Linked DNA regions of Homo sapiens: all the other regions are reported to be linked to region 2. Evidence: microRNA targets listed by miRTarBase, many of them from high-throughput screens and not tested one by one. Region 2 holds a microRNA gene; each other region holds the end of a gene's coding sequence.

Region 1 (6,375 bases), not on the chromosome of region 2:
CTGACTGTCTTCCTCTGCTTTGCAGCAGGAGGAGGTGGCTGAGCAGCTAGTGGGCAGTTGGCGCCCTCCCTGTGCAAGCCTCCATCCCAGAGGCTAGTCCTGCACTCCAGGAGCTCGCCATGATCGCCACCGGCGGCCTGCTAAGGATTTCCGCCAGAAAGCAGGATCCACTCCGCCCCCCAAGCCAGATACCCAAGCGCAAGCGGAAAGCCAAGAAGAGGCGCAAGAACGACGTGGTGGTGGTGAAAGGCAAGCTGAAGCTGTGCTCCATCTCAGGGCTCATCGCCCTCTGTGGGATCCTGGTGCTGCTGGTGGGCATAGCCATGGCGGTGGTGGGCTACTGGCCCAAGGCCACCGGGACCAATCGGGAGGGGGGTAAGCAGCTGCCGCCTGCGGGCAGCAGCCACCGGGTCCCAACCACGGCCAACAGCAGTAGCAGTGGCAGCAAAAACCGGTCCAGGAGCCACCCTAGGGCTCCAGGGGGTGTCAACTCCAGTTCCGCGGGCGCGCCCAGGAGCACGCCTCCAGCACGAGCCGCCTCCCCGTCCTCCTCCTCCACGTCCGTGGGCTTCTTCTTCCGCATCTTCTCTGGCTACCTGCACTCTGACAAGCTCAAGGTCTTCGGGCCCCTCATCATGGGCATCGGCATCTTCCTCTTCATCTGCGCAAACGCGGTCCTCCACGAGAACCGGGACAAGAAGACCAAAATCATCAACCTGCGGGACCTCTACTCCACCGTCATCGACGTGCACAGCCTCCGCGCCAAAGACCTGGCGGCCGCCGCGGCCGCCGCCGCGGCCGCCGCCGCCTCTTCGTCGTCGTCTGCCCCCGCCGCGGCGCCCCCCGGGGCCATACCGCTCAACGGCTTCCTCAGCTACGTGCAGTCGCGGGGCCTGGAGCTGAAGCCCGGGGGCTGCGGTGGCTCCGGGGACGCCTTCGGAGCGGCGGCGATGCTGGCCAAGGGCTCGTGGCCTCCTCACCCCGCGGCGCCGAGCGGCGGCCGCCCTCGGGGCGCCGCGTCCCCGCCGGACCTGGCCTCTTCCCCGCGCTGTCCGCGGGAGCCCCCGAGCCTGGCCGAGGCCGTGTACAGCGTCTACCGCGAGCGCTCGGGCGTGGCAGGCAGTCGCCGGGCCGCCGCTGCCACCGCCGCCGCAGCCGCTAGCAGCTGCAGCAGTCCGGCGCCCTGCAGCCCACCCGAGAGCTGGGGGCGCCAGAGCACGGCCAGCTCCTTCGTGGACTCCTCGCTGAGCGCCTTCGCGCTGCTGCCCTTGCAAGGGGGCCGCGATAGGGGCGGGGACGCGGAGGGCGCGAGCTGCAGCTGGCAGAGGCCTCCGGGGGAACGCGGCTCCCAGGAGATCCCGAGGGGCGAGCTCGACCTGAGCATGACCAACCTCCGCGGCGCAGAGGGCAGCATGCGCGGGGCGCGCCGGGAGCCGGAGGAGCCCGAGGGCGCGGTAGCGGCGCGCGCCGCCAGGGGGCAGGGCGGCCGCCTGCCCAGGACCGGCAGGTACGCGGCCTTGCGGCGCCGCAGCACCAGCGGGCTCCCGGACTACCGGGCGCCGCCGTCCCCCGAGCCCCCGCCCTCCCCGGGGAGTGCGGACCCGGACTCCAGCCCTCTGGCCAAGGCCGCCTCCCCCTCGCCACCCCTGCGGCTGGAGGGCTCGCCCCCCACCAGGCGGGACTCCGGGAGCTCCCAGTCGGATGACCCATCCAGCAGCAATAAGGGCTACACACCCCTGCGGGAGGCCGGCACCTCCACCGAGTCGGTCTTGGACGCAGTAGCTGGTCAAACGCGAGACTCTGCTGTGGCCGCCCCCGTTCTGGGTGCGGAGCAGAGCTCGCCGGAGGGTGCCAGCCAGGAGCCACCCACGGCCGAGCAACCTCAGCCGGTGCAGAGGCAGTTTACAAACAAGGAGAAACTCATCATGATTTCCAGGTCTCATGCCATAGGGGTAGAAGAAGAACTGGAAAGCACAGGCATTTAGAGAAAGGGGTGGGTTGGGGAGGAGGAAAGAGAAAATGGGAGAAACGCCCACTTGAATCAGTGCATTAACAGGTCCCTGTTTCTTTTGTGGACTGATCCGAGGACATCATTCAATATCCAAAGAGCTGCAGAATGTTATCCTTGAATTGCGTCCACAAGATTCCTGTAGATAACTCCAAGGATTTTTTTTTTTAAGCAAACTAGTCTTTTTATGTCCGATGGTGATTGTATGTTCAATGAAAACCAAATGTATTAAAAGGTCAGCAATCTAGTCCATTAGATAAAATCTTTTAATTTTCTTAGGATCAAAATAATATATTTTTGACAGTAACTGTGCACTTTACTCCGACTTTTTTTTTTAATCCCTCATTTCCCGACCCCTGTACTCTGCGCTGGTTTTGCCCACAGCTGCTTGCGAATGGCAGGCTTTTTTCTCCATTCCTTTGCGGAACATAGAAGAGTTTGTCTCAGTTCTCTTAGAATTGATGTTACTAACTGAAGTCAAAGCCAAAAGCATGAATAATTCAGGAACGAGCACTTTCCTTGCCCCACCCCACTGTGCTCACCCAATGCCCAAAAGCTTCTTCATTTTTAAACGGGTGTGTACGTTTTGCTACTAGGCTATGTGGTGGAGACTGGAGGGGACCAGGAACTAGATGGACTGTTACATTCCGAAATTTATATCAAGTACACCATGCTTTATTGAGTGTTATCACACCTGTATTGAAAATAGCATTAATATTTAAAATCTTTTTTAATAAAAGAAGTTTCCGAACAAACAGTTAAACATAATATTGCCTCATTTGCCTTGGAGCTAGCTCATCTGGTACCTCTGAAATATTTTGCTGTGACACTGCTACCAGGACTGTTGTGATCTTCCCCCAAAGTACTCAGCACCATTGTCGCATGTCCAGCGTATTTTTAAGCTTAAAATGTAGGGTAGTATTTAACATTTGGGAATTTCTCTTTCAAATAGAATGAAACGTTAAGTAAATAGTAATATGCCTATGATACTTCTCATTTACCTGCAAGTATTAATTTGCAGAGCACCAGGCTTAATATTCTCTTCCCATCCTCTTGGCTATCACTGATTATAAGTTAATGGTCTTGATCCATGGCCTACATAGACAAAAAGATAATGTTTTAATAATTTGGTAGATTGTTTACACTTGATGTCATTAAAAGTGAATTAGTTAATTTTCAAGACCAGGAGACAAGATGTCTTCATTTTGGTCTCCTTGGGCAAAGCGCTAGTCCTGTAGACAGAGTGCAGATTCCGAGCTGAGATTGGACCCAGCTGTTGGCATCTCCTAGCTGTGAGGCCTTGTACAAGTCACAAACTCTGAGTCTCAGTCATCTTTCTGTAAAATGAAGAGAACCAGACATATCTCATGGAGCTATGAGAGGAATAGAACAGGGTCAGGGTCAGAGGAGGGTTTATATGTGTGGAGTTTACCAGAACCCTTGGCCCACAGGATGTATTCAATAGATGGGGGTTATTGTAATTATTATTACCATTGTAATATATTGCTGAATGCATAGTGTAGAAGAATGGACCTTCCTTGAACTTGAGCTCAAGAAAGTCTAGTCTGAAATCTGGGATATCCACCTATTATCTGTATAACCTTAGACAAATCACTTAATCCCTCTGGGCCTCTGGTAGATGATATAATCTCTATGATCTTCAGCTCTAAAAGCCTTACTTAAATTCAGGCTCTTGTCCTGGATGTAATCATATCACATTTGTACCTACAACTTGGCAAAGAGTGAATATACGTCGTCAATTACCATTAGCTCAACATTCTGTAATACACTTTAAAAGGGCCTAATTTATTCTCAGATTGGATCTGCATTAAACCGGTAACTCACTTTAAGGCTGTAGATTAATATATTGGGCTCTTCTATAAAGCAAAAGTGAGTTTGCACTAAGGAGTGACATGCAAGTGTAATAAGACCTCAAGGTAGTGTTAAATTTCAACAGTCTCAATTGCTTTATCACACTTCCAAAGTAAATGTCAAACTTCCTTAGGTTTTCTTCTCCATTACCTTGGGTACTGGGTAATTTATATACTGAGATAGCGTGTTACTTCAAGGGGAAAACAGGTTCTGGTGTTCTACAATACTGTTTCCAGTCCTCGGAGAATGCACTGTAAATGTTACATTTATCAAATGCTAAGTGACATTTAGCAAATAATAAAGCTAATACCTCTTAGCTTAACTAAGGAGGGGTGGACAGAATACTGTTTATATCTCACAAACTTAGTTCCATATCAGATAATATCTAACTTAACCATTGAACAATTTAACTAGATTTTTTTTCTGAAGATAGACAAAGATGAGCTCAATTTTCCAAATCTTGGGAGGAGCCTGTGATTTCTTTAGACTTCAGAGGAAGTGTATAAGTGTAGTAATTCACAATCGTAACTTTCATAGGAGCAGAAATCTGCAATAATGCTAATTTTCACTCAGTACTTACTGTGGGTTCAGTACTATTGTAGGAGCTTGGTACACATGATCTCAGTGAATCCTCACAGCAACTCTATTGAAGTAGGATCATTCTTACCGCTGTTTTGCAGAGAAAGACACTGAGGTCAGAAAGATGGAATTGTTGTCCAGGGTTACACAGCTGGTAAATGGTGGATCCAGGATTTACACAGAGTTTGGAAGATTAGGTAGACCTGTCGGCAGATGCTGAGTTGAAATGGGCATTTCTGGAGACCATCAAAATACTTTATATATTCTTTATTTCCTGCCAGATCCCTTTCCAGACCATTCTTAGAGAAATGCAGAAAATTGTCAGAATGCACAGTCAGATAAAAAGCTGGAGTTCGTAAATCTTCAGACGGGCATGAACAAGTTTTTTTGTAAGTGACTTTTCAGGGGTTTTTGTACACAATAAATAAGAGTATTTGAAAGGGCCTTATAGATGATAGAATCCCCCCACCTTTAATTTATAAATGAGGTTTCTAAGATTTAGAAAGATGGAACAATTTATTCTGAGACAAACAGCAGTGGCAGGACTCGAATGTTAAATTAAAATAATTGCAACAATTGGTGTGATGGTATTTTTTCCCTGAATTTCTGTCATGTACCAGCTGGGTGACCATGGACAAGTTACATAGTCTCTCTGTGTCTCAATTTCCTTTTCCACACTATAGGAATAATAATGTCCCTATCTTACAGGACTGGAGTAAAGATTAAATGAACTAATATTTGTGTAAAGTGCTTATAATGGGCTTGGAACATAGAGAGTATTATACAAAGGTTTGTTCCTTTTATTTAAAATAGAATCAACTGCTAAACAATTACTTCATATGACCTTCCTTTTTATTAATAGAATAATTTTAGGCTTAAAAATCTAAAGTATAAGGCAACATAGCATAGTGGCTCAAAGTGTGACTTAGGGGGTTATATAACATTATAACTGGGTCTTCACATCTAGTAAATGGAGATAATAAATGGAATTTGGCACATAGAATTAATTATTTAAATGAGGACTAAATAAACTAATATAATTAAAGGACTTAGAACAACTCCTGGCACATAAAAATATTCAGTAAATGTTAACTACTATTATTAAGGCAAAATACAGAAAAGCAATTAGTAGGCTAAATTTACTACTCAGTAGTTAGGGACAACCATAAACTTAATGTACTAAAAAGTCTTTAAAATTTAGGTATATCAGAAAGAAAAGTTAGACCTTAAAACATGAGGGCTTATGCTGCTGCAATGCCTCCTGGTAGAACATAGAACTATCAAGAGCTAGACATATGCTCCTTATGGTCCCAGGATCATAATATTATATAACAATGAATGAACGCCCAAACTGGCACACTTGGCTATATTTAGCCACAATTATTGCATTTCCATTTATTGAGGCTAGCCGTATCAGAAAGGCCAGTGAAGTCCTTGAGGTCTCAGCCCCCTATTAGGCTTCAAGTAAAGATCAGGTGCTCTATTGAGTTATTTAAATTGTCTAGACAAAAGTTTTTTCTATATTAATTTTTTTCTTCAGTAATTTTGAGTTCTTTAAGATGCAGTTTTGATTTTTTTTTGAGCTAGAGAACTTAAGAAAAACCCTCTGACACATAAAATTAGTACAGACTAAGTATATGGACTTGTATTTGGATTAGGATAGTATTTTTGCCACGATATAAAAATACATTTTATAAATAAGATCTTCTTGTATTAAGGGTTGCAGTTTAAGATGGATATTTTTCTTACTTATAACAAAGAATAGGTTGATGTTTACGGAGTTTGTTTTCCATAAACCCAGACTATTTTAAAATTTTTATTGCTATTTGGAAGGGAGGAATAAAACTCATTGGGTGAATATTTAGACTAAATTTTTGAATGACTAACTCTGAAAAACAATCTAAGACACCCCACCC
Region 2 (6,362 bases):
AAGATTAAGGGTGATGAATCACCCAGGTTTGATGTCATTCCTCAGCAACAGGCAGCCCTTGGACTCCCAGCAGGGGTTTGGCCTCAGAGGGTACATGAATCTTACCCCCTGCCCTGTAATTCCTTTGTCATCACAATGATGATTCTTTTTTTATTTTTTATTTTTGAGTCCAGGGTCTCACTTTGTTACCCAGGCTGGAGTGCAGTGACGTGATCACAGCTCACTGCAGCCTCGACCTCCCTGGGCTCAAGTAATCCTCCTGCCTCAGCCACCCGAGTAGCTGGGACTACAGGTGCACACACCATGCCCAGATAATTTTTATATTTTTTGTAGAGATGGGGTTTTGCCATGTTGCCCAGGCTGGCAACTCCTGGGCTGAAGTGATTCCCCTGCCTCAGCCTCCCAAAGCACTGGGATTACTGGTGTGAACCCAGCTACCACGCCTGGCCATGATGGTGATTCTGAGGCCCACAGCCCTGTGGTCAAGAGGGGCCAGCCTCTGCCATTCTACAGAGATGAACGTGTTGAGGCAGCTCACTGATACTGGAGTCCTACAGGTGTCGTGGGCGGTCTGGATTCTCTGGCTTCCACCTGTGGCCTGGCCTGTCTCTTGGGAAAGGGAAGGCAGGATGGACAGACCAAAGTCCATGGGCTTGACGGGAATCCTTCTTGGTAAGACCCCTGCCAGGGAAGCCGACAGAGGAGGCCTCAAGCACGTCTGTGCGCAGGATTTTCTCCTTCCTCTCCACGGTGTGTGGGATGGGGACACGGGGAACTGGCACAGCTATTAACTCCCATGGAAGCAGTGCAAATTCGTGGAAGAAGCATGCTTAGCTAGCCAGTTTCAAGCTATGTGGACTTGGGCAGGTAACTTTGCTTCTCTGAGCCTCAGTTCCCTCATCTGTAAAATGGGAATAAAAGCTCTCTTCCAGGGTTGCTGTGAGGGCCAAATGCAGCAGCACTTGTAAAGTGTCTAGTGGTTCTAGGTGGTTCTATGGCTGGAACATCGAAGAGGCTCAATTGGCTGGGCGTGGTGGCTCATGCCTGTAACCCCAGCACTTTGGGAGGCTGAGGCAGGTGGATCACTTGAGGCCAGGAGTTCAAGACCAGCCTGGGCAACACGGCGAAACACTGTCTCTACCAAAAATACAAAAATTAGCCGGGCATGGAGTCAGGTGCCTGTAATCCCAGCTACTCGGGAGGCTGAGACAGGAGAATTGCTTGAACCTGGGAGGCGGAGGTTGCAGTGAGCCAAGATCACATGACTGCACTCTAGCCTGGGCGACAGAGCAAGACTTTGTATCAAAAGAAAAAAAAAAAAAGAGGCTCAATAAATAGCAATTTATAAACAATAACATCCACTGACATGGCCAGTCTTGCTGGGAAACTCACTCATTTTGTCCTAAACATGTCTTCACATTTAACCCATTTAACCCTGGGAGGCTGCTAAGCATGGTTGTAGGAGGAAACCCATGCTTTTATCCATTTTTTATTCTTTTAGGAAATGGGAGTTGGTTAGGTACCCATCTTCCTTGTACTACTCTTCTGGCCGAGCCCTTGGGGCTCCCCTGCACAACCATAGGTAGCTAATGTTCACCTAGTGCTTGCTACTTGCCAGGCGTGGCCAGATGACTCACACACAGGAGCTCATCTAACCCATGAAAAGGGGATACTATTATTATTATTATTATTATTCATTTTTGAGGTGGGGTCTTGCTGTGTTGCCCAGGCTGGAGTGCAATTGTGCAATCTCAGCTCACTGCAACCTCCACCTCCCAGGTTCAAGCGATCCTCCTGCCTCAGCCTCCTGAGTAGCTGGGATTACAGGCACCCACCACCATGCCTGGCTAATTTTTGTATTTTTAGTAGAGACAGGGTTTCACCGTGTTGGCCAGGCTGGTCTTGAACTCCTGACCTCAGGTGACCTGCCCGCCTTGGCCTCCCAAAGTGCTGGGATTACAGGCGTGAGCCACCGTGCCCAGCTGGGGATACTATTATTATGAATCTCTTTTTAGAGGTGAGGAAACTGAAGCAGAGAAAAGTCAAGTAACTTGGCCAAGGTCACACAGAGCTGGGATTTGACCCCAGGCAGTTTGGGTTCACGCTCTGAAAAAATGTGGCAGGAAAACCTTGAATTTCCTTCTTAAAGTGGTAGGAAAGAAGCTATGCTAGAAGGTGAAATAGACACACAAACTCGATGTCTGCAATGTCCTGCTTGCTTCTGTGCTCAGGACACCCAATTAGAACTGCAGACTGCCGGCTGGGCGTGGTGGCTCACGCCTGTAATCCCAGCACTTTGGGAGGCCGAGGTGGACGGATCACGAGGTCAGGAGATTGAGACCATCCTGGCTAACACGGTGAAACCCTGTCTCTACCAAAAATACAAAAAATTAGCTGGGCGTGGTGGTGGGCACCTGTAGTCCCAGCTACTTGGGAGGCTGAGGCAGGAGAATGGCATGAACCCGGGAGACGGAGCTTGCAGTGAGCCGAGATGGCACCACTGCACTCCAGCCTGGGCGACAGAGCAAGATTCCGTCTTAAAAAAAAAAACAAAACAAAACTGCAGACTGCCACTGATGCACTTCTGTCCAGTATGCATTTATTGAGCACCTTCTGTATACTCAGATGAAAAGAAACCAAACCAAAACCCATGGGGGAAAAAGCCAACAGGAAACATTAGTAGCCATTAGTCTAGACTCCTCGAAATTCAGAATTGATGACAATTTGCATGCAAACCAGGTGGTCTGCTAGGAAAATTAATAACATGCATTTATGAAGATGTTTATTGTTAGGAAAAATAATAAAAGCAGCAGCTCCTTATTGAGCATCTAGTATCCGGGCTTTGCACTAGATGTGTTACATGTATTATTTCTAATTTCCTGGGCTCAAGCCATCCTCCTGCCTCAGCCTCCCAAAGTGCTGGGATTGCAGTCATGAGCCACCAAGCCCGGTATTTTTGATTCTCAACAATCAACACCGCACTGTCCCGATTAATAGTAACTAAGGCGTAATGAGTGACTCCCACGTGGCATGCACTACACTAAATTGTCTCACTGAATTCTCCTCATGACCCTTCCGTGTCATCCTCATTTTTGGAAGCAGCTGCAATATATAATCAGAAGGTGAAGCACTGTACGCTGGATTGCAAAAAACCAGGGAGAATAGTATTTGAGTAATTCCCGGTTTTCATTCATCGATGACGTCATGCCCCTACATAACTGCACATCATTAAAGCGCCATTTATTGGGCACTTAATATGTACCACACACGGTGTTCCCTGCCAGATTCCACTTTGTCCTCACTGCAGAACCTATGATGGAGACATTCGCGCACCCCATCTTGCAGATCAGCCACAGCAGTAATTAACGGGACCCAATGTCACAGAGTACATCACAGCTATGAGGGAGTCACCACCCCAGGTGGCATGAGCTCTAGACCAGTGGTCCCCGTTCCCCTTGACTTAACTGGTTTGGAGGAGGAGTGGTGGGACCTCCCTATTACTCATTTTAAATTGAGCTACGGCCAGGCGTGGTGGCTCACACCTGTCATCCCTGCACTTTGGGAGGCTGAGGTGGGTGGATCACCTGAGGTTGGGAGTTTGAGATCAGCCTGGCCGACATAGTGAAACCCCGTCTGTATTAAAAATACAAAAATTAGCTGGGTGCAAGCGCACGCCTGTAATCCCAGCTACTCGGGAGGCTGAGGCAGGAGAATCACTTGAACCCAGGAGGTGGAGGTTGCAGTGAGCCGAGATCGCGCCACTGCACTCCAGCCTGGGCAACGGAGCGAAACTCCATCTCAATAAATAACTAAATAAACAAACAAATAAATTGAGCTATAATTTGCATATAACAAAAGGTATACATCTTAAGCAGACAGTTTGATTAACTTTCACGTATTTAATGACTGCTAAGTTCAAGAAGAGAGAACATTTCTGAAGGTCTTGCTAGTTCCCTCGCCTCCCTCCCAGGTTACACCCCCAGCCCTCCAGGGGAAGCCACGGGTCTGATTTCCATCACCCTAACCCAGTTTTGCCTGTTTTGGAACTTCATACAGGTGGAACCAGGCAGAATGCACCCTATGTCTCAAGCTCCCTTCGCCCTGCACGACGCTGTGGAGGTGCATCTCCCTCATTTGACCTTTAGACACATCCCGCTGCATGCCTGTAGCTCTGGTAGTTTCCTATAAGCTCCCTGAACCAAGCAGCAGGACCCTCCCCATCGTGGCATCACTGCCTTGCAGACCGAGAACCAGGTAAGACAGCGTCAAACAGAGGGTAGAGGCTCCTTGGTGACTTTTTGTTTTGAGACAGGGTCTCACTCTCTCTCCCAGGCTGGAGTGCAGTCGCACAATCACAGCTCACTTGCAGCCTCAACTTCCTGGGCTCAAGCAATTGATCCTCCCACCTCAGCCTCCCAGATAGCTGGGAATACAGGTGTGCATCACCATGCCCAGCTAATTTTTTATTTTTTTTAGACACAGGGTTTCTCCATGCTGCCCAGGCTGGTCTCAAACTGGATTGCTGGGCTCAAGCGATCCACCTGCCTTGGCTTCCCAAAATGCTAGGATTATAGGTATGAGGCACCGTGCCTAGCCCGATTTTTATATCAGAGCTCTTTCTGCAGTTGGCTGACTGAATGGCTTGGGGAGGCAGGTGAGAAGGCTGGTCTCAAGGTGGGTCCCCTGCTCACTGACCTGACTCTCATGCCCTGGAACATCTCGGTGCTGGTGTGGAAGGGCAGCACTGTGGTGGCGCTGACTCCCGGACAGTCCAGCAGCCCCAGGGTCAGGCTCTCCATGAAGGCGAAGGCTGACGCTTTGGATGTGCAGTAGTCGATGGCACCGGGGATGGCAGACAGTGCCAGCACGGAGTTGAGGCACACGATGTGGCCATTCTGCAGCTCCAGCATACGCGGCAGGAAGGCCTTGGTGGTCTGAGGGCAGATGGGGTGTCAGGGTGGAGCAGCTGCAGCTCTGACAACCCCTCCACCTTTCTTTCGGGGAGAACAGCCCACCCCGGACACACATGATGCTCTAGGGCCCGAGCCTTCCTGCGAGGGAGAGGGCCGAGGGCTCCCTGCCCCAGGACACCGAGCATATTTCACAAAGTCTGATGTGTCCTAGAGCTGGTCATTCGTCTTGTCTGGCCACCTTGTTCGTGGACATCCCTGCTGGCCTGAGCCCAAGCCCTGGCAAATCATCCCCTCCCCTCCATCCTGCCTGGGCTCCCTGCACGCCCGGGGCTGGCTCTGGCCCCGGATAGCCCTTACCCAGAACTGGCCCAGGGTGTTGATGTGTTGGGACTTGAGGAGGGCATCATCATCACTGTCCATTAGGCTCTTCCCATGGACCACGGCGGCATTGTTCACCAGGATGGTGATGTCACCCACCTGCAGGCGAGAGGGAGCCACGGGGCCATGAGGGCAGCCAGCCCAGGGCCAACGATATATGTTTTTTGTTTGTTTGTTTTTGAGATGGAGTCTCACTCTGTTGTCCAGGCTGGAGTGCAGTGGCACCATCTCGGCTCACTGCCACCTCCGCCTCCTGGGTTCAAGCGATTCTCATGCCTCAGCCTCCCAAGTAGCTGGGATTACAGGCTCCTGCCACCATGCCTGGCTAATTTTTATATTTTTAGTAGAGATGGGGTTTCACCATGTTGGCCAGGCTAATCTTGTTCTGACCTCAAGTGACCCGCCTGCCTCGGTCTCCCAAAATGCTGGGATTACAGGTGTGAGCCACCGCACCCGGTCCAATATACTTTTTAAAAGGGATATGGCTTACTCCTAAGTGAACGAGTAATTTCTGAGTCCATTTATGATCAATCAATTGATGTGTTATTTACAAGTTTTTCTTAGATATTCCTTCCCGCAGGCCACTTTCTGCCAGCCTAGTTCCAGTTATCCTGCATACATAGAGGCCCAGCAGCCACCTGGCCGTACCACCAGCAGCCACAGGGCCTGGGGAAGAGAACTGCGTCTCTGAGCGCCAGTCTTGATTTGTGAGATGGGGCTAATGCCGCACCAGGACTGTTCTGAGGAGGAGAAATAATTTATGGCACACACCGTACCTGGCACACAGCATATTTATAATAAATGAGTTTACTGCGACATAAAAACAGTTAACATTACCACGTGCCAGACAGTCAGGGTGGGTTTCCCTCTCTTGGAGGTCACTGATATATTTAGCCCAAACAGATGACTGGAGTCAGAAGGATTTTCCCAGAGGCCAATGGGACATTTGCCCCGCCACAGTCCTGGAGAGAAACCCACACGGTCTACATTTCCAAGGGAACAACAGATGATTACGCCTGTTACGTAATCAACCCTAATCCCTGCCTATGTAACTGGGGCCAGCTTCATGGG
Region 3 (6,375 bases), not on the chromosome of region 2:
TCCATACAATGAAATACCAAACAGCATTTAAAATGAATGAACCAGAGTTACAACCTTGAAGCAAATATGGCAAAATGTTATAATCTATTAAAGGTGAGTGAGTGGAGTCTACAACAGGTATTATCCTCTGTGCTTCCAGTACTTGAAATATTTCAGGCCAGGCGCCGTGGCTCATGCCTGTAATCCCAGCACTTTGGGAGGCAAGGCAGGTGGATCACCTGAGGTCAGGAGTTTGAGACCAGCCTGACCAACATGGTGAAACCGCATCTCTACTAAAAACACAAAAAAATTAGCAGGGTTTGGTGGCATGCGCCTGTAATCCCAGCTACTCAGGAGGTTGAAGCAGGAGAATCGCTTGAACCCGGGAGGCAGAGGTTGCAGTGAGCCAAGATGGCGCCACTGCACTCCAGCCTGAAGGATAGAGCAAGACTCTGTCTCCAAAACAAACAAACAAATTCAAAAATTTTAAAAAGTAGCTAAATATAAAAATGTTGGGGAAAAGACAATACTTCTCCCCCCACCCCGTTGTTTTTTTGTTTGTTTGTTTGTTTTTTTGAGATGGAGTTTTGCGCTTGTTTCCCAGGCTGGAGTGCAATGGCATGACCTCGGCTCACTGCAACCTCCGCCTCTGGGGTTTGAGCGATTCTCCTGCCTCAGCCTCCAAAGTAGCTGGGGTTACAGTCATGTGCCACCACACCCAGCTAAATTTTGTATTTTTACTAGAGATGGGGTTTCACCACATTGGCCTGGCTGGTTTCGAACTCCTGACCTTAGCTGATCCGCCTGCCTTGGCCTCCCAAAGTGCTGGGATTACAGGAGTGAGCCACTGCGCCCAGCCTCCCCCTTTATTATATCAATTTCTATGACACACATTACTGTACTTGTAGAAAAATTTGGCCACTGAATTCACCAATGTACCCAGATGTCTTATGAAATAAGTTTTTCTTACTGTTTAAGACACATTTAATTAGATTTTCTGCTTCTTGCAGCTTATTGCATATTGATACAATGCTCTTTATCAAAACAAAACTCAACTCTAAACTCTGAAGAATGTACAAATTCCAGTGAGTTCTTGATGACTATAAAGACCCTGTTATTCTCACACAGGGTGGAGGCAGGAATTTCGCAAACTACACAAATAGCTGTAGTTTTACCAGCACCACCCTAATAATTTTGCTTCACACTTTCCCAATCATTGAACAGTTCCTAAGATAATGTGCCTATTTTGTTTTTAGCATTGTTAGCCACATCTAGAAATGTGACAAGGAGTCTAAATTGCTTCTTTGGAAGTATTTAAAGCCATTTGTAAGTCTTCCTCTGTGGTTCCCTAAAAATGTTGTTTAAATGTGTATTCTAACTTTCCAACAAGAGGGACAGTTTATGGATGGGAAATGGATTTGTTTCTTTTCTATCCTAGATATATCTAAAATCTAGTATTCTATATAGGCACTCAACAAGATTGTGCAGCCAACTCCCACAACTACAGAGACAGCTTTTCATTTAAACATCACACTTCTGTAATAAACACTTACAAAGGTAAGAACGTTTTAATTAAATGGATTTATTTAAAAAGACTATAAAATCTGACATCAAGAGAGATAAAAAAAAAAGACCCATAAGATTTAAATTGACAAATATAAAATGATTGGCTACAATGTAAAAATACATTTCCCAGCCCCCAAACAAAACACAAGTATAGTAATTATAAAATTTTTGTACTGTGAGTTCATTTCTCTTATAATTCTTGAGAACCATTCTAAGCAATCTATTTGTATAAAATATAAAATTTATCATAACTGTTAATTTAAAAATTATTTTAAATTTGAGTTTATTGAATTTGCCATTTTTTTGTACATAACAGTGGTTTCTGGTCCCAAGTTCCCCTTGAACTTATTTACTACAATGGTCTTTTTACTCCTATTTATTTCCTTCTACAATAGAAAAGAAAGGCTAACCATTCATGGGTCCCATAAAAAACAATGTGAAGGAAGGTTCTAAGAGTGACCAAATATACCAGTGAACATACTATCTTTCTGAAAAAGAAAGAATTAAGTGACCAACTAAGAGATCCACTTTTGCACCAATGAAACACATGGAGGTGAAACCTCAGAACAAGCGGAGCTTAAGCTCAATGACAGTATGTTTTATATGACAGGCCAGCTGAGAATGTATCTGTCAATCCTGACTAAGCCCAATACATGGGTGGTGACCCTGAGGTAGCCCAGATGATATGCTCTGAATTTTAGATAGGTCTAAATCACAATGGTACAGTCTGATGTGAAACTTTAGTCTACCTACCATAAACTCGTTTTCTGAATCAGTCCTTATTCATAATTAGACCCAAAACCCAGCTATTTCTCCTCTCTTAGATGACATGCCCAATAAAAACAGCATCCATGATTGGTTTCATTATCTCCCAATTAAGTAGTGGTGACACCACCACTAACACTAGTATCCAAACTCTGATACAAATCCTAAAGGTATTGAGTCAGTAAGACAGAGCAGAAGCTATGTTGGGCCATACTGACCAATTTCTGAGAACCACATTAGCCACATTCATGCAATTAAAACCCATCTAAGACACACAAATGGCAGATGAGAAAAAAAAAAAAGGATGAGGTCATTAAACTTTATCACTGGAAACATGATTCCACTGTTTCAAATAGGAAACCTACCCTGGGAGACTTCCACCAAAGTGCAGAAGGACCTGATGCACGGGCTCATCATCTTAACACTAGAGTCCCAAGTCAAAACTCTAGGAGGAGGATAAGAAAGGTCTAGTCTGTGAATCACCTGGACAGAAAGGTCATATCCCAAGTGCCCTGCCTATCTGTGACAGCTGCTAGCCAACAGACAATTCTGGTTATGAAGTTATCTCTTGAGAATGGCTTGATTCTCTTATGCCACCAACAGTATTAGTCTGGGCAGGGTTCCCTGGATATTTACTTTTTTTTTTTTTTTTTTTTGCCAAAGACAAACTAGAGCAATGCCTATGTAAGAACAAGGACTCTCAAGATCCTGCTACACAGTATTCACAATCAAAAGGGCCCAAGATTCAGGACCACCTAAAGACAACTGACAAAAAGTGTCAGAGCCAGAGGCCAACCTCTGCTAGATGAAGCAGCAGCACATGACTCCATTTCTATCTGATAAGGAGACAGAGAAGAGGCATCTCGAACAGATGAAAAACCAAAGGCTGGTGTCCTAAAAAAAACAGATTGGCTTCAAAGAAAACACTAAGGAAGACCCACAGAGCTGTATTAATTTTAGTAAAAATAATCATATGCCAACAGGGGAATTGAACCACTTTCTAAATCATAGTATGAACTCATCTCTTCAGATACTTGGTAAGTGGTCAAAGCTTGTTTTTATAATTACTTTCACTGTCTTGGGCAAAAAGTCTTTCTTATCTTTGGTCCTTAGGTGTGGTATCAGTTTCTTCCATTTTTTTATGTGTTACAAAACAATCTTTTTTTTACTTGACATCAACAACCAAGGTGCAGTATAAACACGAAGTTGCTGATATTGTTGCTTTTATACACATAAAATACCAACATCTCCCATACATTTTATAGGCTATACGAAGGTCTCAAAGAATTAATAACCGTTATCCAAAAATATTATAACATTTAAGGCTGAGTGAAATACAGTAAAGCCTGGTAATATATGTTAAGGAAAAAAACCTAGACCAACATTTTAAATATTGGTTTCTTAAATATGTTAAATTCCCATTAACAGAACATAATCTAAGCATCAAAACAAACAGCTAAGCAAATTAATTTAAAAATAAAACAATTTCTAAGTAGATGAATATAATCACGATGTTTATACAGCTATAAAGCATAATTTGGAAGCTAAGCCTAGTAAAAGAATGACCTGTAACAGAATGACAGAATCATTTATCAACCGTTGAGCTGTGTGATTTAAAAACAATTGTTTTCTCCTCCTCCCACCAAAATCTCCATTTGAGATAAGTTTCAATTATTATTTAAAAAAAAATTTTTTTTAACTTATCTGGCCTACTTTGTGGTGACTGACACAATATTGATAAAACTGCCTTCTTGACCTTCCCCTTGCTCTCCAAAAGAAGTGGTTTAAACAATTAACAAATTTTACAAGAGCTTCTGCCAGGGCTCAGGCACCACAATGCAGGGTCACTACCTTAGGTAACATCTGCTCCCCAGAGTCTTTAGGCATTAAGTGGCTCAGTGAGGGCTTCAGCCCTAGTGGTATTTTCAGGTTTTCTCAGCTGGGACTCCTGTCGTTTTTCATACAGCATAGTGATAAAGTCAAGTAGGAACATAAAACTTGCTATAAATCCAAACACCTGAGGAAAAAAAGGAGGAAAGGTTATATGAGAATTTTGGAATATAATCTTACATTTCCTACTTGGCTTGGAGAATGTTTCATATAAACAAGATGTTCATGAATTTTATCTTATACACGACTACTCTTTAATGGTAAAAAAAATTTTTTTAAGTCATCAAAAAATGGAAAGAAGTTATAAAAGAAAAACTTCCAGAATAATGGCTATTAGTCAAAGTCTCACAAAATATTAATGTTCTGCCTTATGTGTGCATGTTTATATGTGGAGGGCTAATATATGAAAGTAGGGTTAACAGATAAACATTAAATCCTATAAAATGATACAAAACAAAAATATTTGCATGGTTAGATTGACCCACAGATGCGATAAGGAAAATACGTGACTAGGCAACTCAGCCTAGGTGAAAATGAAAAAAGTTATTAATATCAAAACAGAAATTCCATTTTGAAGATACTATTAGGTTAAATTACTTAAATAATGTTCCAGTTGTCACACTGCAATGACACAGTGACATGACGCCACTACCTACTTCCTCTTCCTTAAATCACTTCCTCAACTGTTCTCTTCTAAAATACGATCATACGTTCTGAGAATTCTATCAAGAGACAGAAGACCATGCGTCTGCTTCAAATTTAGCTTCTCCACTAGCAAAACCCTTAAGGATATGGGGGCCAGATAAGTTCTCTGTAAAAAAGAGAAAATTGATGTAGGTGATGGCTAAAGTCTCTTCCAAATCTAAACTCCCTATCTCCACGATTTTTATTAATAACATTCTCTTACAGTCTGTTGCAGTCTCCTGACCTCTCCTCCCCCCTCTAAAGAATAAGCATTCCACCTCATTTTACCACAAAGTAAACTGAGCTCCAAATTCATTAAGTCCCCCAGATATCCCCAACATATCCAATCTAAATTTAATTATCAACGCCTCCCACCCTCCCATCCCCCGCCACAAAAGCCAAGTCTTTTTCCCTCTGGAATCTTTATTTTTGACTTGATGGCATTTATCCCCTTATTTTCCTGGCAACTTTCTTAAATACATCAAACTCAGACCAAATGTCACCCTTGTTTTTGAAGCTGTCTCTGATCACCACAAGTCATCTTCTAGCTCTTTTGTTCACACACTTCTGAATTAAAAAAAAAAAAAGAACTTCCTCATGCATTTAAGTCTATAAAACTTTTCATAATTTAAATAGTTACAAAAGGTAATTTCCAGCATATTATAAATATCAGCTTTTTAAACTACCTGTCACTATTAAATATATCCAATGAAATATAAATACTGGGACAGTCTAATTAAAATATAAAAATTTTTTTTATAGCTGTAAATTTTTTCCCTGGAACTCAATTTTTCCTCAACTTCATTTCACTTTCCCCACAGAATTTTATAGTAATGTATTTTTATACAAATAAGTAGCCAGAGCTTTTTAAAATTAAAAATGAGTTAAAAAACTCATTATTTTATTGATCACCATCTCATACTCCTCTGCAACAAAAATGTTTCTAAACTGAAATTAACCATAAAGCCCTATTAAAACTTTGATTTTTCTCTTCTATTGGTTCATGTACCCATGAATAAATATTGCTTATTGCTAGAATGAATCAAGATTCAGTGTTAATTTTATTTCTATGTTTTGTTTTTACACATGTAAGTGCTAAGAAACTGTTGTCATATGAATAGATAAATATAGCCATGCAATTCTCTGAACTCCTTTTGAGTTTTCTATCATAAAATGCAGTTTTAATGATGTATTAGCTGACAACTCTATTAATTACAACTTCAATTTTGTTTTTGGTTTTTGAGATGGAGTCTCACTCTGTCACTTACACTGGAGTGCAGTGGCACAATCTTGGCTCACTGCAACCTCCGCCTCCTCGGTTCAAGCGATTTTCCTGCCTCAGCCTCTCGAGTAGCTGGGACTACAGGCGCCTGCCACCATGCCCGGCTAAGTTTTGTATTTTTAGTAGAGACAAGCTTTCACTATATTGGCCAAGCTGGTCTCAAACTTCTGACCTCCTGATCCGCCCGCCTTGGCCTCCCAAAGTGCTGG
Region 4 (5,968 bases), not on the chromosome of region 2:
TTACCTTTCTTCTCTACCTTTGTTCTTTTTTAGGAATTTGACAAGAAATATAACCCTACCTGGCATTGTATCGTGGGCCGAAATTTTGGCAGCTACGTCACACACGAGACAAAGCACTTCATCTATTTTTACTTGGGTCAAGTTGCAATCCTCCTCTTCAAGTCAGGCTAGGTGGCCATGGTGAAGGTGTCAGTGGCGGCGGCAGCGATGGCAAGCAGGCGGCGTTGCTGGGACTGTTTTGCACTGGAGCCAGCATCAGGATGTCCTCTCCAATGGCTGTGCTACTGCATGGACTGTATACTCGATTTCATGTGTATGTCGCAGTAAACAAAACCAAACCTCTTTCTGTTTAGTTGCCTGGGGGAAGAAGGCTGCTTTATGTTTATTTTTCAAGACTTTAAAAATATTTTTTGGTTGTATTGCACTAGGAAATCTCTCCCACCTCTCCCTTTTCTCTTTCTTTCCCTATACAAAATAAAAGGCCCACCATAGAGACTAGGCGGCCGAAAGACTAGGAGGGCTGAGGAAAAGAAATAGGTCTCTGGAGGTGGAACTAAAACTGTGCAGCTGCCTCTTCCTGGCGGTGGATGCTGCTTTGGGAGGGCCAGGGAGGCTGCAGGGGGACAGTGTTGGGATTGTCAAGGAAAAAGGGGTAGGAAGGAAGGTGGAGGGATTGATCTAGTACCAGGGAGAATATTCCACTGAACTGTGATTCTATGGCTTGGGGCGGAGGGTGGGGTGGGGATGCCTTCTTTAGGGGCCCTGAGATGTGTTTGTCTGTGGTGTGTGGGAGTGGGGAGCAGATTTGTCTTGCTGTCTTTGTCAGAATTTCTAAGTAAGGGCTGTGTCTTTGTGGATTACCTTCTTTTGTTCTTCCTGCCAGAGATCATGACAGGAGGATGCTGGGGTAGGATTAGCTTGAATCTTTTTTTTCTTTACATTTTTCTCCTGTCTGCTCCCTGCTTAGCCCTCAGTTTCCTCATTCCTCTGGAGTTCTCTTAGAGCAGCCCCTGTTGTTAGTTGGCTGGCAAGGGAATTTCTGGTGACTGTAGTTCCTTAGTTAGGTCTTAGCAATCAAACCAAATTGATGTCTCCCTTGACTCTTCTGTGTATATGTGTGAATATGTGTGTATATGTGTGTGTATGTGTGTGTGGGGTTTGGGGTAGAAGGGAGGGAGGGGGCAGGACAGTGTGGAATCTCTAGGGTGTATGGGTAGGTAGGGGGCACAGTTAGTTCTAAGTGGGCTTTTATGCTAAAAGCCTCTGGGGATATCTGTTTTGAAAATAAAGATAGGTGTCCCCTCCTTGCTGTCATCTAGCCCAGACACTCTGCTTGCTCTCTGGCTGTCTGCTCCCTGGGAAGGCTTTAGGAGGACCACCCAGGACAGGATGACCATGCTGCCATCTGCTCTGGAGCTGGGTCTCAGTGCAGAGGGACAGTGACTGTGGATGGTTGCAGTCTCTGGTGGGAGGTGAGGATAGAAGTGATAAAGAGCTAAGAGGAGCTTCTGGGAGCCTTGGAGGAGGTCAGTCTTGCAGTGGTGAAGCCAGGACATAGGAGATGGAGCAGGGCTGTGAGAGGAGGAGATTCTGAGGAGGATGCAGGGGAAATCTTGTCTGTTAATGAAATAGGAGTGGGGTGGGGTTTGGGGTGGGGTGGTCATTGCCGTTTGAGCTGCTGATTTTCATGAGTCGCCTTCAAAACTCTCGTGTAGGGTTGACAATGTGGGGGGGTGGGGGATCCAGCTTATTCTTTTATTTTCAAGTCCATTCTTGGGGCTGGTGGGGAGGCAGGAGAATACCCCTCCCTAAGCCCTTAGTGTGTGCCGAGCTTGCTTTGTGATGTTGGCAGGGGAGGGGAGACCTGGGTGGTGACTGAGTTCCCTTTATCAAACCCTTCAGTGGGCACAAAATTGAGTGCTTGATTTTAGGTTTTATTTTTTTATGAATGTCCAAATCTGTGTTTCCCCCTGCCCTCCCAGACTGTGTGGCCAGTTGAAAGTGTCTGGTTTGTGTTCATCTCTCCCTCATTTCTGGAGCAGGGCCTGAGACCCTGCCACATCTCCTATGCTCTGCATCCACGCCTCTTTTGGACATTAAAGGTTGATTGATGCACCTCTGCACTGTTTGGGTCTCTTTGGGGATGAGGGGTTGGCATGGTGGCAGTGGTGCCACACAGTGGGTGAGGGTGGAGAGTCTCCAGGGTGGAATAGAATGGGGACTGAAGGGAAGACCAGCCACTAGATACTGATTGGCCTGTAGCAGCACTTATTTGTGCCTAGGCTTATGCCCCTTAAGTAGAGGAAAACTAACCAGCAGCACTCACCCTTAAGGGCTCCTGGGTTCTGCCTTCCTTGGTGGTGATGGCCAGGTGAATCATATTTTGTGTCTTTGGGATAGTAACTGCTACCTTCCCAGCTGCCGTCATGGACCTGCCTGAGCTTTGCTGCTTCAACTTTTGCCCAAAGCTCTTATCTTTCATACTCCTCCCTTCTCGGCTTTCCTGAACCTGGAGACTATTTAGCAAAGGGTCTGGCCACTCAGAAATGGAAAGCTGGGGATATTTAGAAAGATGGCACCTCTTTTGGTGGAACCTAAGTGATTCTCTGAATCCTCTGTTGCCCAGACACACAACTCGAGAAATCAGCAGTGCCAAGACTTCTGAGAGTGTCTGCCCACCCCTGACTCCACCATCGTGTGACTGCAATTCTCTTGGAGGTGTTAGGGAGCCAGAGGTGCTTTGCCCTCTTTGTGTTACTATTTCTTTACTCAAAAATATTTAAGAGTTCTTGTATGCTTGGGCCTAGGATGCTGTTCACAGAGGAGAATGAGACAAGTAAGTTCTAGGCTTCTATGACATACACATTCTTATGTGTAGAGCAGACATACACACACTGATCAACTTTTTCCAATAGTGATAAATGTGTTATCAAGGAAATGAACTGGGCAATGAGCTATTGAGTGTTGGAGGTAGGTAGATAGGGTTCCTCCAGTTAGGAAGGTGGTTGGCTGATCTTGGGGAGAAGTTCTACCTCTGGGGCAGTGAGGTCCTAAGGGATTAAGTTGAGAGACTCTAGAGCCCCAACTTCTGTTACTGCTTTAGCTGTCGTGAGTAATTTGACAGAGCTGGAGCTTTGGGAGGGAGAGTGAGGCCACAGTTCACATTTCATCAGGGATGAGTGTCTCCAGGGCCAAAGCTCATCTACTTTCTTCCCTGATGAAAGAGGCAGTCCAGGTGGCATCTGTGAACAACACATTCCTGCACAGGTAGGTGCACAGTGCTCATCTGGAAGACTAATCCTGCAGGGCTTCCTGGAGGAGATGAGCCTCCACTTTTCGGGGCCCAGGATGGGAAAGTATGTGAGCATGTGTCACTGAAGGGACTGTGGAAAGCAGATGGAAATTGTGGAATTCTCTCGGAACAATGCAGCCATTATTAGAACTGTGCCCATAGGAGCATCAATATCCCTGCTCCTTGTATCCTGTTCTCCAGTCTTCTGGGGACCCCCTTTGACTGAACCCAACCAAATGGCAGATGACAAGGCAGACCCAGGATGCAGTCTGTAGGGTTCAGTCCCCCTCCCCACTGGGAACAGCAGGAAAGGGCAAGGTGGTGACAATCTAAGGGAGGCAAATGGATAATAACCAGCATGGTAGGGAATCTTCTTTGTTGCTGTGGCACTGTCGATCTCTGTTCCCTGAACTCTAGTGTCCTCCAGACTAGATTTAAGGTGTGGTTCCCCGCTAAATTATTCTCTCACCTCCTTTCAGTCTTTGCTCAAACATCCTTTTATCAGAGAGGCTTTCTGACATCCTGTGCAAGATAGCACCTCTCCCCCATCGCTGTTATCCTTACCCAGTTTAATTCCACGTAGCATCTGCCAACGCTTGACATATTTGTTTTTTGTTTACTTTCTGGCCTGTGACAACTAGAATATAAGCTCTGTGAGAGCATTTTTCTCTTAACTGCTTATCTTCAAGTAAACAGAACAGTGCCTGTCCTGTAGGAAGTGTTTGATACATACAGATTGCTCAAATGAAAAAAGAAGGGTGCGAGCAAGCCTGGACAGGCCTGGTGCCCCAGGGCAGCCTTGCCTTTTCTGAAGAGAATGGCTGCCTTAGGCACGGCTCTCCTTGCTGCCCAAGCCTTGCCACCTTGAAAGGCGTGAGAGGGTCACTCCCAGGTGTATTCAAGCAAGAGTGCCTGAGCCACTCTTGCTTGGCAGTATGGGAGGATGAAATAGTGTGTTCATAAAGTGCATTTTATTTTTAAAGCATTTCAGTTTATGTTGCTGAAACCTGAGAGCGCCCCCCTGAGCTAGACTCAGTAATCATTAGACACATTTTTGGATAAGCAAACTGAATCAGAGAAGGTGAGTGGCAAAGCCCATGTAGCTGGTGGCATTACTAGAACTTAGCACTGTGATGCACAAAGGCTTAACTGGGTTTGGCAGCAAGGGTCTCATGGATACTCTTTAAGATGTAGGCCCAGATCTCTTAGTAGTGAATCCCTGATGTTCCCTCTCTTGGGGCTCTGGTTTAGCAAGGACAGCGAGGATACTTTCCTCTCTCCCTCCTCCTTACTCCTCTCTACTAAGGATTAAGGAGCCACCTCTTCCTCCTTAAGGCCTTTGGGAGAGATGGGTCTCCTGGTATTAGAAAGGAGAGCAGACGCCTAGAGTTCTGACCTCTTGGGCCTCCCCTAAACAAAAAGCATAGCCCCTTCACTACCCTAGTAACAAGTATGACCTGTTGCCTGTTGAGGTCAGGTGTACCTGTGTGTCTCTCTCTGTGATGTATGTGGGCTTGGTGTCCACATCAATGTGCGTGAATACTCCTACCCACAGACTGCTACTGTGCCAATATAGAGGTTCATAAGAAAGATAAAAGAGAACCAGCAGAACCCCAGGTTCTGCCTCTCCTTCCTCCCTTTGCCCAGATAAAGGTGTACAGTGTTTGTGGTGAGGCTGCTGGACACTGCTGTTTTGGGCTTTCTAGAGAGAATGCAAACATGCAAAAACAGTGTGGTAGTGTAGGCAGAACAAGATCTAGAATCAGAAGACCTGGAGTCGAATCTCAGCTCCAACACCCACTGGATGAACGTGGACAAGCTGCTTGATCTCTCAGATCCTCGATTTCTTCATCTGTAAGATGGAAACAATATGTGTCTTTTCTAAGGGGAAAGATCAAATGACATCATGTATGTGAAAATGCTTAGAAATGGGTGATGATGATGATGATGATACTGATTATTAGGGTATCTAATAAAGTTGGGGAAAGAACAAAATCCCCCCCTCACACCCTATTGCACCACCAGCCTTCTCCCTCCCTGCTCAATTATACCCATGTTATAGGGAAGGAAATAGGGAAGAAACTTGTCTAAGGTCACATGGATGTTCGCAACAATTGGGATGCAGAACTTGATCTGACTCCCAGGCCAGGTTTGATTTTGATTTGCAGTGGCAGAGAGGACTAATTTTTTACTAGGTTCTGAGCCCTGTACTGAACTCTGGATTGCCCTGTACTTGGTGGTGGTATACAGTTCAGCAGTTTTTAGCATATACACGAATTTGTGCAGCCATAACCACTATCTAATTCTAGAACATTTTTATCACCCCCAAAAGAAATCATGTACCCATTTGCAGTCACTTGCCATTCCCTCTTCTCCCCAGCCCTGGGAAACCACTGACCTACCTTATATCTCTATGAATTTGCCTAATCTGGACATTTCATATAAATGCAATTGTACATGTGGCCTTTTGTTTCTGGCTTCTTTCACTTAGCATGTTTTCAAGGTTCATTTGTGCTGTAGCATTTATCAGTACTTTGTTCCTTTTTCTAGCTGAGTAACGTGTGGGTATATCACATTTTGTTTATTCATCTGTTGAGGGATGTTTGGGTTGTTTCTACTTTTTGACTATTGTGATTAGTGCTGCTATGAACATTGATGTACAGATTTTTGTGTAGA
Region 5 (6,375 bases), not on the chromosome of region 2:
CAGGGGAGAGACACCGAGAAGCTGCAGTGTAGACAACCAAACCCTTTATTGTCTAAGTTACATTAGACGCAACACTGTAAAAAATCCTGTTAAGAAACAAGGAAACAGCAGATCGGGAGAGGTAGTAGAAAGTCTGTAACAGTCAGAAGACAACGTACAGAAGTGTATCATGCAGAAATTACCATTCGGAAAAAAAAAGGCAATCAAAACGGTGGCTAAATAAATAAGGAAACACAAATCATATTAAATACTATGACCAAATCAACAAATTAACAAACCAACACAATACTGACGATGGGTGGAAGGAAGGGACCACACATCCAGGCCTGCCCACAGCTGGCCTCAAGGGATGGCGTTCTTGGGGGGGCTCCCCAGTCTGTTTAACTGGGTGAAAACCTTCCTCCTGCACTCTGTGCACCCTGCGCGGCCCCGCAAGCTGACTGTCCTCCACGCCTGCTCTCCTGCAAGCCAGGAAGGATCCAGCACGCGGCCGGCAGGGCCCCAGCGCCAGCCCACTCCCCACCAGAGCCTCCAGGATGGAGCCTCACCAGCAAGACACTTCCAGCTCCAAAGGCCAACTGCACTTTTCCATGCCGCTTCTGAAACAGTAAAAATGTAGACTACACTTTCGTGTCACTTTGGGTACAGAATTTCTTTTTAATAACTAAAACACAGAGAAACAGGACTGGGTCACTAGTCCCTGACATTCCTAACAGTCACCATTCACTTTCAGCCAAGAAAACAAAAGCCAGAAAATGCAGAAATGATCACTGTGGGGAAACTACTGAAATGATTAAACATAAATCAACAGAAGAGTCTTCTGATTTCTTAGGTGGACAGAGGAATGTGTCTCCGCAACTTTGCCCAAAATAACTTTACAGAACAGTCAATTACAGTTGTTTAACTGTATCTGCATGGACATTCCTAATTACACCAACAGGACAGATCATTTTCGTACATATCTGGTGTAAGAATATCAGAAAAAAATAAGTAAAAAAAAAAAAAAATATATATATATATATATATATATATATATATAAGCTAGCCAGTTACATTGCATCGTTTGAAAGTGTTGCAAAGTAACCTGAACCGTCAAGTAATTTAAACTCAGTAACAAGTAGAATCCAGAACCAAACATTACTAATAACAATAACAATAATAATAATAATAATAATAATAATATAATAATATTCAACAAATCATTAGAACAGGAAACCCACACTTTAGGGTGTGTGTGTGTGTTTGTGTGTGTGTGTGTCTGTGTTTAAACAAGACTTTGTATCAGAAGCCCACTGTCTACAAAAACTGCACTAGTCCATTACCGTATTAAGTAAACTGTTGCTCTCGCCAGTATTAAAGGTTAGGATAATTTCTGTACATGTAAAATTATTGCTTTTTTGAAAAATATATTTAGCATGCTCGTTTTAATCCATTTCCTGCCTTTACAAAATTTCACAATTAAAAAAAAACCTAGTAAAGCTTTTGCAAAAAATTTCACAGAACATTTTCATTCAAGGCAGCAGTAACTTTTGATAATGCATAAAATCATATGTGCAAAAATCTGAAACTCTCAGAAATATTACCATCACACATAGTGTCACGGCAATGGGAAAAGAAAATATTTATATCTGTGGAATACCATTTCAATTGCGTACACTGCATGGTTTAAGATCCTTTGTTATGGGCCTTAACCCCCACCACAAAAACTCGCATTTGCATTACTGAGGAAGAGGTATATGAAGCCGTCCCCCACCCAAGGGGCTGGTGATCCCCACCCTTTATGAACAAAGTCACTCATCCTGTGGAGGTCACCAGGCCCAGGGAGAAAAGACACCCACTTGCTGGGGTGGCTCAGGGAAGGGGCGGGGAGGCAAAGAGTGGGGACAGAAGGCGCCAGAGCTCAGCACCCTAGTCATCTAGGGCACCTGAACCTGCTCAGGGATTCTTCTGCCATTACTAAAACAGGTCCGAATCGGGAGGACTCAGTGGCTAAATAATTTGTTAAGACGTATAGTCTTCCTTTGTAAGCAGTTTGCAGAATGTAGCCCTGTTACAAAAAGGTCCTGAGAATAAACAAGAAGCCTGCTTTTCTTAGTGTTGCGCTAGCTCTCTTCCGAGGCGGAATCTACGCATTCCCACAGACGTGTCTCCTTTGCCAGATTCGCTCAGTTCGAATGGTGGGAAGAATGGAACAGGCACACGGCCCCAGGGAGGAGTGCGATGGAGCCAGTGAACAATGAGGGTCTCATCATCATACCCCTCCGCCAAGCCTGCTTCCCACAGCACCTGAACGTCACCTCCTTCCTCTCTCTTATTTACTATTTTAAATACCCACTAAGACAAGGAGAGGCAGTAGTATTAATACTCGATCAACCTCAAATCCACCACGTCTTGTTCTGACATCATCCCCACAGTCCCTCTTAACATGGGAGGCCCCTGTGACAGTGCTCAGCCTCGCCACTCTGTCCAACACACACAACAAGTATCTTTTTTTCCAGTGTCTCAAACTTGTCTTGAATAAGACAGATGCCTTGTGCCCCTACTGTGCCTGCCAGTACTACTGTTTATTATAAGAAAATATGGGACTATGGACGATGAGCACGTAAATGCGTATATAGTATCTACATGTATTTCTAGAATATAGCATCTTCATTTATTTCTGAACGTTTAACAAGGAGAGGCATCTGCCTTCAGTTTCCACTCCAGCGCAGCGGCTCGGGATGTGAGGTGTCTGCTCAGGAGTTCCCCGGCTGTTCTTCCATGGAGCGGCCAGGTCACAGGTGGGAGGCTGCTGGGACATCGTGAGGGTACTGCTAATGGCCGTTACGGGGACCTGGGGTGCGTCGGAAACACGCCTTTAGGTTCCCTTTCTCAGAGGCACTGTCTGGACGGTACCTGTGTTAGAATGGTCTCTCCCCTGGGTGAGAAAAAGGAAAGAACAGGAGAAAAGCTCATTTCTGCCTTTTGGTTTCTAAATGCATTTTTCCTATTAATTTTCTAATCAACATCCAAGAACACAAACAATGACCTTCACAAAGCAAGCCAACCAAGTAGGCGAAGACCCCCTGACCTGAGCTGTAACTCATTTCATAAAATGAGCAGCAAGTATTTCAAATGTGCCTTCCTGCCTTAAAGAGAGGCAGCTTGAAAACGAATCATTTCCAGTGTGATTTAGAAAGGATCATTAGGCTTCTCTAATGGTTTCACATGTAAGAATGGCAGATGATAGTGTCTGAACCAGCTCTGGAGAGAAGGTTACAAGTTGGCAAGATGAGGAGGCGGCCAGATTGTAAAACTGTATAGTACAAAGCAGATTTACAAGTGAACGGTAGTTCCAAAACAAGGCTGAATTTGGGGGTCATACAAACAAAAAGAAGAGCACGGCTCTCACGTAGGTCTGTCAGAACTTCAGAGCGTGTTCACCCATTTCCATAAACAATTACCAAGTTGGAAAAAGGGAAGGAGTATTCTAAAGTGAACTGCGAGAGAAAACCAAGCATAAATGGGGGTCCACAGCTTTCAGAGAATGCTCTCCAATGACATTTGAAGCATCCCTGTTTGAACAATAGCATTTACAATCTGAGGACAGAAACAGTATGGCCAGATTAATCTTACTTAACTGCATTAACCTTCAGCTAAAATCTTGATGAAGTGAAACTGACCAGTGGAAATTAACATGCATACATAAACTAAGGGACTCGTGTAAAATTCTGTTTCCAGCTATGCCTATAGGAACCCCAGAAATAATGGCGGAGTGGGGGAAGGTCTGGTTGACATAATGAATTAAGGGCTTTTCTTTAGTTAATAGTTCCAGAAAACTCCTACTTACAGCTGGCTCTGTGTTTGTGACATCTACCAGTTGGCATGTAGTGGAAGTCAGAAAGATACTGGACAAAATTTTACGAGGGGTTAGGGGGTGGGCAAAGTGGTGGAGACAGCAGTTTATTTGAAATGTAGGAAACAGTAATGGAATGAGAGATGTGATAAAACTTCCCTAAGTAGATGGTGAATTTCCTGCAGTAAACGGACAAAGACTGTTTTACATTTTTGTACAGTGACGTCAGGCCGTGAAGACATCTCTGAGGTTCTGATGGGAAATATTCATCATCAACAGGGCTCACTAAGAACCAATTCCAAATACATTCTGGAAGGAAAATGGTCTTCGTGTTTACCAAAGAAAACTGGGAGTTATAGTTAGCTATTGGGTGTTTGGCCTTGACCGTCTCTGCATAGCAAACATAGACGTCAGGGACCGTAAGAGGCGGGCAGGGGATGCCTGTGAACACAGGTGCTGTGTGTGCCTAGATTGCACATGGACAGCACCCCCAGGGCACATCCACCTGGGTAGCTCTTCTTTTGGACCAGAAGTCACAGACTTGCATTGGGTTAGGCATCAATGGACTGTTCCAGAGGCAACAGGAAGACGGCCCTCCGTCCATGAAGGGCTAACGTTTTATATTACAGGGCTCAGAAGGCTTTAAAAATATTTATTTTGGAAGCACTGCAAAGTCGGGATAAGCCAAACAACTAGGTGGTTAAATTGTGTTCACAAATCCAGATGCAGAGACGCCCATTTTCTCTTCATAACTGAAGGGATGTGTTCCAATACCTCATTTTTTTAAGATAGTTGCTTTAAGTTATTGATTCACCGGAGGCCACCATGTTATTATTCAATAAAGCAGCCCTAGAGCATTTTTAAGAAATGAATAAAACAGGGAAGAAAGGAGGCAGAGAAATATTCAAATTAAGTGGACACACTATAATCTTTTGAGCACGCCCACCATCGCCTTGTCTTCCTGGAAGGGAAAGAGTAGTCAAAACATGAGAAGCTTTCGGAAGATTTCGCTTTTCTTTTCTGCAGCTGTGAACTGTGGGCTTTTCAGTAATGCTGAAAGACATACTATCTTTCTTGAAGGTATTTCAGTGTTCTAGGGATGGATATTGACTACTGGGACTTCACGAGGTCCACTTTCTCTCTTTCTTTTAGTAAGGCAAGGGAAATGTGTATGTAGTGGTGGGTGTGGATCGATGCCCCGCACACAAAAAACCTGCCATGCCCCAGGACACACGGGGCACCTCTCGGCCTTCAGAGGGAGGTCAGCCTGTAAACAGGGCTTGTGGTCAGCCACGCAGGCAATGCTAAGTGCCTGAGGACCAATTATGCACAATGCTTTACTGACTAAAACCTTTACCCAACAAACCATAAGTAAACAAAGGCTATGTGACTGGGGGGATTTTGGGTAATTCGCCAAGTCTAATTCATGATTTTTGGTAGCATATTATATTTAGAGAAAATGGAAAATGTGTTTTAAGATGCTTGTTTGGTTTAATAAATAAGAAAAGCTTAAGCAAATGAGCTGAATTTCAAACTCTGATCTGTGATGCTGAGACTCTGAAAGTGATACTGAAAATAGATTATGCATATATTCAAATGTACCAACCTACGTGATTTCTCCATCATTTGCATTATAATAGCCACAGCTAAAAATGAGACAAATTAGGTCGCCATTTGTTTTTTCATTTCCTGTTATTTTGATTAATGGAATTATTTATCCAGCTTAACCATTTTAAAATAACATTTAGAATAATAAGAAATAAACTATTAATCATAGTCTTTAAATTCTGGCAAGGAATCCAAACAAATCAAAACACCAGATTTCATATTTCAGCAGACATTCTGGTCTTTCAATAAATCCCAAAACCACGAGGTTGGGGTGAATAATTTTTCTTGGTTTCAAAAATCATTTTAATTTCTAATGTTTAACAACAATGCAACAAAAAAAATCAATTTCTCTGCAACACTAAAGAAACTTCCTAGTTTTTCCTCTAACATCCACAGGACAAAACACCCAGATTTCAACATATTGTTTTCAGAAAGTGTTCTTTCTAATGATGAATGCTGATGATTACTAGAAATTAAACATTTATTCAGTTGTGCTAAATGGATGACCAAGCATCTTTTAAACGACAACATGCATGAGCTCTTTCCCTCATTTAGAATTTGATTTGGAGGATCAGCGGTCCTTGATATTGGAACCATCTTAATCCAAAACACAGTAAAAGCACCAAGGACAAGCACCGGTGCCACCGCCGGGCTGGAAGAATCACCCACAAGAGCGGATGCCCTCACAGCTGGGCTCCTGAGGCCCAGGGCCCGGACCCTCTCACCATCTTCTAGCTTGTCTACGATCGAGGCAAAAGAGTGAGATGCCTAAAGGGGTGTGCTGTGAGCATCCACAGCCTACGGGAAGCCCTGTTATTTATCCTCCATCTCTGCCTTCCAAGGCTCCAGGCATCCTTTCCACCCTTACCACCTACCAAAGGAAGGTGTTCAGAAAGAAATGGCTGCTTGACTATCTGGTTTTCATAACCTCC

Evidence for each region. The annotated mature microRNA hsa-miR-6730-3p reads CCUGACACCCCAUCUGCCCUCA and lies in region 2 at 4,936-4,957, opposite strand. An mRNA with a match to its seed (bases 2 to 7 or 8) in the 3' UTR can be bound and repressed. Matches are read on the target gene's strand: a 7mer-m8 pairs with bases 2 to 8, a 7mer-A1 pairs with bases 2 to 7 and ends in A, and an 8mer does both.
Region 1: the mRNA of TMEM200C is a reported target of hsa-miR-6730-3p. Seed matches in the 3' UTR shown: 7mer-A1 at 4,779-4,785.
Region 3: the mRNA of CMTM6 is a reported target of hsa-miR-6730-3p. Seed matches in the 3' UTR shown: 7mer-m8 at 4,034-4,040 and 7mer-A1 at 1,583-1,589.
Region 4: the mRNA of DYNLL2 is a reported target of hsa-miR-6730-3p. Seed matches in the 3' UTR shown: 7mer-m8 at 187-193 and 7mer-A1 at 821-827.
Region 5: miRTarBase lists ZNF516 as a target of hsa-miR-6730-3p. Seed matches in the 3' UTR shown: 7mer-A1 at 2,396-2,402.

What each region holds. Positions count from the first base shown.
Region 1 is chr18:5,885,808-5,892,182 of GRCh38, reverse strand. It overlaps TMEM200C (transmembrane protein 200C), which reads left to right. Exons shown (of 2, transcript NM_001395400.1): 2 at 26-6,375. The coding sequence starts at 120. The coding sequence ends at 1,985. MIR3976HG (MIR3976 host gene) reads right to left here. Exons shown (of 10, transcript NR_172496.1): 8 at 4,461-4,662; 9 at 3,010-3,103. Among named protein-coding and RNA genes, the nearest start is that of TMEM200C, 6.5 kb to the left of the region's middle. RefSeq lists an enhancer at 356-883 and a silencer at 1,401-1,620.
Region 2 is chr1:12,574,023-12,580,384 of GRCh38, forward strand. It overlaps MIR6730 (microRNA 6730), which reads right to left and starts at 5,001; the gene lies at 4,935-5,001. DHRS3 (dehydrogenase/reductase 3) reads right to left here. Exons shown (of 6, transcript NM_004753.7): 3 at 5,271-5,390; 4 at 4,696-4,934. RefSeq lists an enhancer at 1-153.
Region 3 is chr3:32,479,771-32,486,145 of GRCh38, forward strand. CMTM6 (CKLF like MARVEL transmembrane domain containing 6) reads right to left here. Exons shown (of 4, transcript NM_017801.3): 4 at 1,542-4,327. The coding sequence ends at 4,190. Among named protein-coding and RNA genes, the nearest start is that of CMTM6, 20 kb to the right of the region's middle.
Region 4 is chr17:58,089,109-58,095,076 of GRCh38, forward strand. DYNLL2 (dynein light chain LC8-type 2) reads left to right here. Exons shown (of 3, transcript NM_080677.3): 3 at 34-5,968. The coding sequence ends at 171. Among named protein-coding and RNA genes, the nearest start is that of DYNLL2, 8.7 kb to the left of the region's middle.
Region 5 is chr18:76,359,641-76,366,015 of GRCh38, forward strand. It overlaps ZNF516 (zinc finger protein 516), which reads right to left. Exons shown (of 7, transcript NM_014643.4): 7 at 1-2,917. The coding sequence ends at 2,858. Among named protein-coding and RNA genes, the nearest start is that of ZNF516-AS1, 130 kb to the right of the region's middle. RefSeq lists enhancers at 2,238-2,739, 2,740-3,239.